2 separate regions of the Homo sapiens genome follow, and region 2 is linked to region 1. Evidence: fine-mapped expression QTL. A gene starts in region 1. The other region holds a variant in brackets. All regions are shown on one strand. Distances are between the middles of the regions. Region 1 holds the start of PABPC4-AS1 (PABPC4 antisense RNA 1). Region 2 has its middle 26 kb from the start of HEYL.

Evidence for each region. PIP is the estimated chance that this variant, and not a neighbour inherited with it, causes the effect. A credible set is the group of variants that fine-mapping cannot tell apart.
Region 2: its variant is the best candidate, but not a certain one, in a credible set for the expression of PABPC4-AS1 in visceral fat (GTEx, PIP 0.53).

What each region holds. Positions count from the first base shown.
Region 1 is chr1:39,563,156-39,567,398 of GRCh38, forward strand. It overlaps PABPC4-AS1 (PABPC4 antisense RNA 1), which reads left to right and starts at 1,915. Exons shown (of 4, transcript NR_125979.1): 1 at 1,915-2,064. PABPC4 (poly(A) binding protein cytoplasmic 4) reads right to left here. Exons shown (of 16, transcript NM_001135653.2): 8 at 1,951-2,223; 9 at 1,531-1,618; 10 at 1,268-1,387; 11 at 681-767; 12 at 459-586. SNORA55 (small nucleolar RNA, H/ACA box 55) reads right to left here; the gene lies at 4,219-4,243.
Region 2 is chr1:39,611,474-39,615,716 of GRCh38, forward strand. No RefSeq gene overlaps it. Among named protein-coding and RNA genes, the nearest start is that of HEYL, 26 kb to the right of the region's middle. RefSeq lists enhancers at 307-476, 2,016-2,185. The variant C/T (reference allele first, on the strand shown) is at 2,101.

The DNA.
Region 1 (4,243 bases):
CAGCTTAGAAAATCTAAGCTCTAGGTTCAACCCCTTCACCTCCTACACACACTTTACATCTTTGAAGCTGAACATCCGATCTGTAAGTTGAAGTTATTTCCTGCATTAATGTACCAATCATCTTGCAGAGCAGCCAAGGATCCAATAGGTCATTGGATGCGGAAGTGACCTGGAGGCTCAAACAGCTGAATGAGCACATTATTTCGTACAAACAGAAGAGGAAGCACTGGCTGCCCGCTCTGAGGCATTTCTGAGTGAACTGGCATCAGGCAGAGCACTTTTAAGCCCCTTCTTTCCCACTAGTGAGCCCCTGAAGGGCAGGGACAGTGAATCAGAACATAGCGTCATAACACAGAGCAGGCATTTAATACCTGTTGAAGGAATCAAAAGCACAGCTTCTTTTACATCAAGTGGAAATGGGGGAAATCCTTTTAAGCATTCTGTCTGGTGAACCTCACCTGCAGAGGCTGTATGGCAGGATGAGGGCTGCGGACACTGGAGGCGTATTTGTAGGGGGCAACAGCCCGGGGAGCAGCAGCAGCAACAGCAGCGCGTGGCGCTAAGTTCTGCACAGCTGTGGGAACGCCTTAGGGAAAGAACAAATACAATTAAAGCCCATCAGTCTGGGCAAAGACCCGTCAAATCCCATCTTTCCCCCTTCTGTGTGCATCCAATACCACCTCCAGACTGGCAGCTGTCAGTCAGCCCTTGCTGGGCGGCACCAGCCCCACCAAAGTCCATAGCCAAGCGGTCCGGGCACTCAGACCCTACAACAGACCAGCAAATGCACATCAGTGTTGGCGGCAGATGTCCAACTGGCCACGTCCCACGGAAGGAGAAATTTCAAAGCACGTTTACGCAACACATTGCACAGGGGGCCACTACTACTTTCGAGGATGAGCCAAAGGATAACATACAACTCTTTCCACATCTTGGAATACAAGACATATTCTGTATACACTGTTTCCTTGTATTCCTCACCCCACCCAAAAGAACAAGCTGCCTCTGTGGTCATCCAGCTAGCAAACTTCTACAACTAACCTTTTTCACATAGGTCACCGATGAGCAAAGAATGTTAAAAGCAACTGACACACCTAGAACTCATACTGTTTCTCTGCTCCTGAAGTGGCCACCTAAGCACACAGCTAAGATTACAGAACCAGGACTCGATAAATTCGAGCCCAACAAACTGACCAACCCAGGACAGAGCCTAGTCATCCTGACTCCCTCCTCCCCAGGCCACACTTCTAAAGGCCAGTTTGCTCACCGACTCTCTGAGTGGTAGTAGGGAGGCCACGAGAGGCCGGAGCATTACCAGTTGGAGCCAGATGGCGAAGAGTTGGACGAGGCCCAGACTGGCGTATAGCACTTGGCATTCCTTGGAAGCCTGGTGAAGAGAAAAATTGCACATCATTGAGAAGTGATGTGGACCAGAACCTAGGCTGTGCCTCAGAGTGGGGAAGAAGGAAAGGCAGGGGAGACCAGGACAGGTATATCCTGGGCTGTCAATTACTGTTCCCCACCACCTACCTTGAGGTCTCCCACCTTGCTGCCAGCGTGGATTAGGCCTCATCTGTGCTAACTGGTTAGGTGTATAATATGGAGGCCTTCCCTGAGCCTGTAAGACAGAAGAATACCCAAACACCCCCTTAAGGACTGAACCCATCCTAGAGAAGTATCTCATCTCATCTCACTAACCAGGACCTAAGCTAATTATTTAAATGTTCTTTCTATTCAAGAGCTGAGGGGTCAGCTAATGGGGACTGTTTTATGCTACCACTGCCACTGTGGGTGTGTGTTTGTGACCATGGGTAAGTCCTTCATTTTTACTTGAAGGGTCCTTATTGTGACATTCTAGAACTCTAATAACGAAAAATCCCTCTCCCCAACCACTGCAGAATACTGCCAGCCGGCAGGTTCCCAAGAGCTGTGACCAAACAGCACACCCACCTGTGGGACTGCTGGCACAAAGTAGCCACCCGCTGCAGGCTGGAACTGATTTAAGATGGCATTGGCAGGAAGTGCTCTCATTCCAGCCACTCGTTGCATATACTGGTTGGTCAGGTGAGCCTTTCTCTCTTCCTTCCTCTGGGCCAGGGCAACATATAGTGGCTTGGAGCCCACAATGCGTCCATTCATCTCAGTGACTGCTTTGGTTGCTTCTTCAGGAGATGAGAAGCAGACGAAGCCAAACCCTTTGCTTCTTCCATCCTCCAGCATTACCTACAAAATGAGACCAGCTACTTAAGAAATAAGGTGTCCCTGGCTGGGTGTGATGGCTTGTGCCTGTAATCCCAGCACTTTGGAAGGCTGAGGTGGGAGGGCTGCTTGAGCTCAGGAGGTTGAGACCAGCTTGAGCAATGTAGTGAGACCTCATCTCAAAAAAACAAAGGGCCAGGCGCAGTGGCTCATGCCTGTAATCCCAGCACTTTGGGAGGCCGAGGTGGGTGGATCACGAGGTCAGGAATTCAAGACCATCCTGACCAACATGGTGCAACCCCGTCTCTACTAAAAATACAAAAATCAGCTGGGCGTGGTGGCACACACCTGTAATCCTAGCTACTCAGGAGGCTGAGGCAGGAGAACCGCTTCAACCCGGGAGACAGAGATTGCAGTGAGCCGAGATCGCGCCACTGCACTCCAGCCTGGGCGACAGAGCGAGACTCCATCTCCAAAACAAAACAAAACAAAACAAAACAAAACAAAACAAAAACACCAACCAACCAAACCAACAAAAAAAACAAAACAAACCTACAAATAGGAAAAAAAAGGATGTCCCTGGGTGGGGAGGGAACTATTCAGAAGAACCAGAAAGCCTGGGTTCTGCTGCAGTCACTGAGTCTAGGTCAGGGTTCTGGCACAGGATTTACCCCAGACCAACTAAGTCACAACCTCTAAGGTATCTAGGTGTTTTCTTTGAGTCCCCAGGTGATGCTAAAGTTCTGAAACACTATGATATGGCTAATAATAAAACCAGGAACTCAAAGATGTTTCCTGATACCTGGTGGATAGCTACTCCGGGTAACCACAAAACATCTTGAGAGTAGTACTGAGCAATTTATTTTCATATCTCATATGCTTCAAGACCTCGGTGGACAAACTCTAACAAGCTCTTACCAACGTCAGGATAACACTTTTGGAATACCACGTGTGGACAGGAGTCCTAAAATGTTCAGGTAACCAATGACTGCCACCATTAATTCAATGAGATGACCAGCTCAGAGATAGGCAGCCTAGATTCTAGTCTCACTTGCCTTCCTGAGGCTCAATTTCCAAGAAATACTCCAAACAGCTACAAAACCACAGGTCTACTGGTTCAGGCAGTCTTTTCCCACATTAAGTTCATCATTCACAAATGGCATTCTTCCTAATAGACAAGGTTATTCACTGTCTTCTCTGGTGTGACTGTCATTGTTTTATGTCTTAGTTAATGGCCCAGAGAGCCTCCTGAAGTGGAGGATAGGGAAGTAAAGAAGTGCATCACTCCATAACTCTCTACCAATGAGATGGGCCAGTAAGGTATGTGAATAAAAATGCCACACCATCATAATGAAAATGGGGACAATTCAAGGTATGGCTCTTCTGCTCTCTTAACAAATGCCAACTTGACTACTAGGCAGATAAGCAAGGATAGAAGATCACTCCTTACACTGATGAGGGCCAGTCAAGGGGGGGGTCATAGCAAAAACGAAAGGGTAAGAACTGGGCAAACCCACAGTTGGCCTCTGGCCAACTCCCTACTACAACTGATAACATTGCTTTCCACATTCCCAGGTTGGGAGCAAAGTCCACTAAGAGCCAGGGCAGGGCCACTAAGCCCTTACCAGCCCACGTGGCTTCCCTTCTCATCAACTAAAGGATTTTGTGGCATCTGGTACACCTGTTTAGCAAGACCGGCGTCTGCATCCGGCCATAACTCAAAATGTTCAGATGGCACCAGTTTCCATCCTGCTCCCAAAGTGCCAAGGACAAGCAGTACACCATCCCCATGTAGTCAGCATTCTCTTGTTCAAGGACTAAAATTCCTTATCTTTAAAATGAGGTTCCTACTTACCCTGCTAACTTAGTTGATATGATTATCAAAGAAAATCAAGCAAATGATGCACACTACGAAACATAGAAAAACCTTCCACTCCCCTTTCCTCTCTTTTTAAGACCAGGGTAGAAGTTCCCAAGCCCACCTCCAAAATCTTCAAAATACCTTCATTCTCAAGGAGAAAATGTGGCAGAGCTGTAGAGACAG
Region 2 (4,243 bases), 48 kb after region 1:
AGATTAGCTAGACACAGAGCACTGATTGGTGCGTTACAAACCTTTAGCTAGACTCAGAGTGCTGATTGGTGCATTTACAATCTTTTAGCTAGACACAGAGTGCTGATTGGTGCATTTACAATCCTCTAGCTAGACATAAAAGTTCTCCAAGTCCCCACCAGATTAGCTAGATACAGAGTGGTGACTGGTGCATCCACAAACCCCCAGCTAGACACAGAGTGCTGATTGGTGCATATACAATCCTCCAGCTAGACATAAAAGTTCTCCAAGTCCCCACCTGACTCAGAAGCCCAGCTGGCTTTGCCTAGTGGATCCTGTGCCTGGCCGTGGGCAGAGTTGCCCACCAGTCCCGCACTGCGTGCCCGTGTGCCTGCATTACCAAGGGTGAAGGGGCAGTAATCCAAAAGCAGTGGCTGCCAGGGGGACAGGCACAGTGGGTGGCTGTTTGTACTGGATATTGGCCATTTGCAATTTACCTGCAAATCCTTGTGGGCCTGTGCTTCAAAGGGGCCATCAAGTCACTGTGCAGTGGCGGTCAGTCACCCAGCTTTCTGACATCACAAGTTGAATGAAAAGCTTTTAGTCCTGAATCAACAGGAAGAGCTCTAAAGCCTGCAAGGGGCTCTGTCTCATTCCCAGCCCAGCTATAGAAACAGGCCTCTCAGCAGCCCTTTGGGGAGAGATTCAGTGGCACAAACAGAATTTGTGCCGTGCTGAGGGCATGGCTGGCCACTGCAGCCCCACAGGTGTCTTTCTTAGTGGGCACATGATCTCAATTAACTGGGAGGACTGTGGTTTTTTTTGGTCTGTTTTGTTTTGTTGTTGTTGTTGTTGTTGTTGTTGTTGTTTGAGACAGAGTCTCGCACTGTCACCCAGGCTGGAGTGCAGTGGTGCCATCTGGGCTCACTGCAAGCTCCGCCTCCCGGGTTCACGCCATTCTCCTGCCTCAGCCTCCCCAGTAGCTGGGACTACAGGCGCCCACCACCACGCCCGACTAATTTTTTGTATTTTTAGTAGAGACAGTGTTTCACCGTGTTAGCCAGGATGGTCGCGATCTCCTGACCTCGTGATCCGCCCACCTCAGCCTCCCAAAGTGCTGGGATTACAGGCGTGAGCCACCGTGCCCGGCCTTTTTTTTCTTTGTGGAACACATCTGTAACCTTAGAAGATGAAAAATTAATTAACCTCTGTTACCGGTGATGGAACTTTCTTCCTTAGAGTGTCCTTGATGAGGATACTTATGTAACATAACCTCAGGAAGATTTAGAACTAAGACTAGCATGCTAAACCAAAAATTTAAATCTTAGCATTGGCCGGGCATGGTGGTTCACGCCTGTAATCGCAGCACTTTGGGAGGCCGAGGCAGGCGGAACTCTTGTGGTCAGGAGTTCGAGACCAGCCTGACGAACATGGTGAAGCCACGTCTCTACTAAAAATACAAAAATTACCCAGGTGTGGTGCTGCGTGCCTGTAATCCCAGTTACTGAGGAGGCTGAGGCAGAAGAATCGCTTGAACCCGGGAGGCAGAGGTTGCAGTGAGATGAGATTGCATTACTGCACTCCAGACTGGGCTACAGAGTGAGACCCCGTTCTCATAAAAAACAAAGACAAAAAACCTTAGCATTAATATTTCTGTTCAAAGAAATAATCTAGATACATTTAGGGTTTTTGTTTTGTTTTCTGTTTTTGTTTTTGAGACAGGGTCTCACTCTGTTTCCCAGGCTGGAATGCAGTAGCTGGATCTCAGCTCACTGAAACCTCTGCCTCCCCGGCTCAAGTGATCCTCCCACCTCAGCCTCCTGAGTAGATAGGATCACAGGCGTGCGCAACCATGTCTGGCTAATTTTTAAATTTTTTGTGGAGATGAGGTCTCACTATATTGCCCAGGCTGTTCTCAAACTCCTGGGCTCAGGCAATCAGCCTCAGCCTCCCAAAGTCCTGGGATTACAAGTGTGAGTCACAGTGCCCAGCCCTAGTTTTTTAGATAAACAGATTTTTGAGAGAACTTAAGATTCATCCTATTTATAACTTGGATTTACTTGATGTATAAGAATGATTTAAATCTTCAGGAAGGTTTTGTTTATACAGATAACTGAGCGT[C/T]CTGTGTGGGAGCCGCGGGAGCTGCGTGAGGGGAGAAGAAAAGGCACACACACAATACCTTTAAGGGTAAACAAGCTTTATCCCACGTAAATGGCAATGCAGATATAATAAGCAAATGATATAATAAGGAAATTAATATAATAAGCAAATTGATATAAGTAAATGACATAATAAGCAAATTGCAATGGGAAGGGGAGAAGGGAAAAGAGATATACACATATTTACACTCACCAGACTATGGAGGATTCACCACCAGACTGGGAAGCAACAGCCTGGGCTCCAGAGTCGGCCACTCATCCATGCACAGATGAGGAGAGGTCTCATGAAGCTTCAGCGCAGCTGGGACCCTAGCTCTTTTTGTAACGAGTTGTTTGGCATGAGGTCCGGTCACGAGGGCCCTTCATTATCGGTCTCAAGGAACACAAAAAGGTCAACTTGTTTTTGCGATTGTGTGTTGTTTTTCAATAACTAATGTATAGGAATAGATTGAAATAGAGATTCCTCCGAAACAGTGCTGGATGAACGCCTCAAGGGGCTCACACAACCTGTTCAGGGACTTGGTGACCATTGTTTGTGTCCATGTTCAGTTGAGTTCAAATTTAATATTTAACTTTTCTTCCACACTGAGATACTGAAAAAGAAAATCAAACCTATTCATTTACGTTTGAAGATATAAAGTTGTAAAAAGCCCCTTAGAAGCATTTGCTAAAATCTAGATTTTCAAACAAGGTTTGTAAGCTGAATTTTATTTATACTTTTTAAATATTTTATTATTATTAAATTTTAATTTTTTGTAGACATGGGGTCTTGATATGTTGCCCATACTGGTCTCCAGCTCCTAGCCTCAAGTAATCTTCCTGTCTCGGCTGCCTAAATTGCTGGGATTACAGGTGTGAGCCACCACGCCTGGCCAATAGGTTGAATCTTAAGGTTAAGAAAGAATTAGTAGTGTTTTGAACTAGTAACTTTAATAAATAGAAACTAATTGTTTACTCCAGAAATAAACTTCCAAATAGTCTTTTCTGTGACTGAAAACCATCCTCAGGACTCAACCCAAATATGCATCAAAAGGTGAATGGATAAACAAATTGGGATCTATCTGTACAATGGAATACTACACAGCAACGAAAAGAAAGAGCAACTCATTCACAGAACTTGATGAATTTCTAAAGCATTACACTAAGCGAAGAAAGCCAGACTCAAAAGTTTCCCTGCTGTCTAATTCCATTTATACATAGACAAAACCATGGTGGGCCAGGCGTGGTGGCTCACGCCTGTGATCCCAGCACTTTAGGAGGCCGAGGTGGGCGGATCACAAGGTCAGGAGTTCGAGACCAGCCTGGCTAACATGGTAAAACCCTGTCTCTACTAAAAATACTAAAATTAGCTGGGCATGGTGGTGTGTGCCTGTAATCCCAGCTACTGGGGAGGCTGAGGCAGGGGAATGGCTTGAACCCAGGAGGTGGAGGTTGTAGTGAGCCAAGATTGTGCCACTGCACTCTAGCCTGGGTGATAGAGTAAGACTCCGTCTCAAAGCAAAAACAAAAACAAAAACAAAAAACAACCATGGTGGCAGAAACACAGAAACCAGATCAATGCTTGAGACTGGAGGAGGTGATTGGCTGCAAAGGGTTTAGAGGGAGTTTCTGGGTGATAGAAATGCTCTATATCACAATTATGAGGTGATTGCCTGAGTGTTTACACTGGCATGACTCAGCAAATTTTACATTTAACATTGGCGAATTTTGTTGTACATAAATTACACCTCGATAACACAGATTTTTAAAAATAATACTATCCTGGAGACTACCAGAACCCTCCGTATTCAACATGAGGCATGAAACAGGACCATTTTTTTGGAGAATAATGTGGGAAAGGGGAGGGGGCTGTGAGGAGAGAGGCCAAGTAATCACAGAGTCACCATGGAAACCAGGAGAGCCAGCCGGGTGCAGAAGTAGAGTAGGTTCCCCCACTCAAAGTCACCGTGATTGAATGACTCTTTTCTTTTTCTCTCTTTTTTTTTTTTTTTTTTTTTGAGACAGAGTGTCCATCTGTCCCCCAGGCTGGACTGCAGTGGCGCAATCTCGGCTCACTGCAAGCTCCACCACCCGGGTTCACACCATTCTCTTGCCTCAGCCTCCCG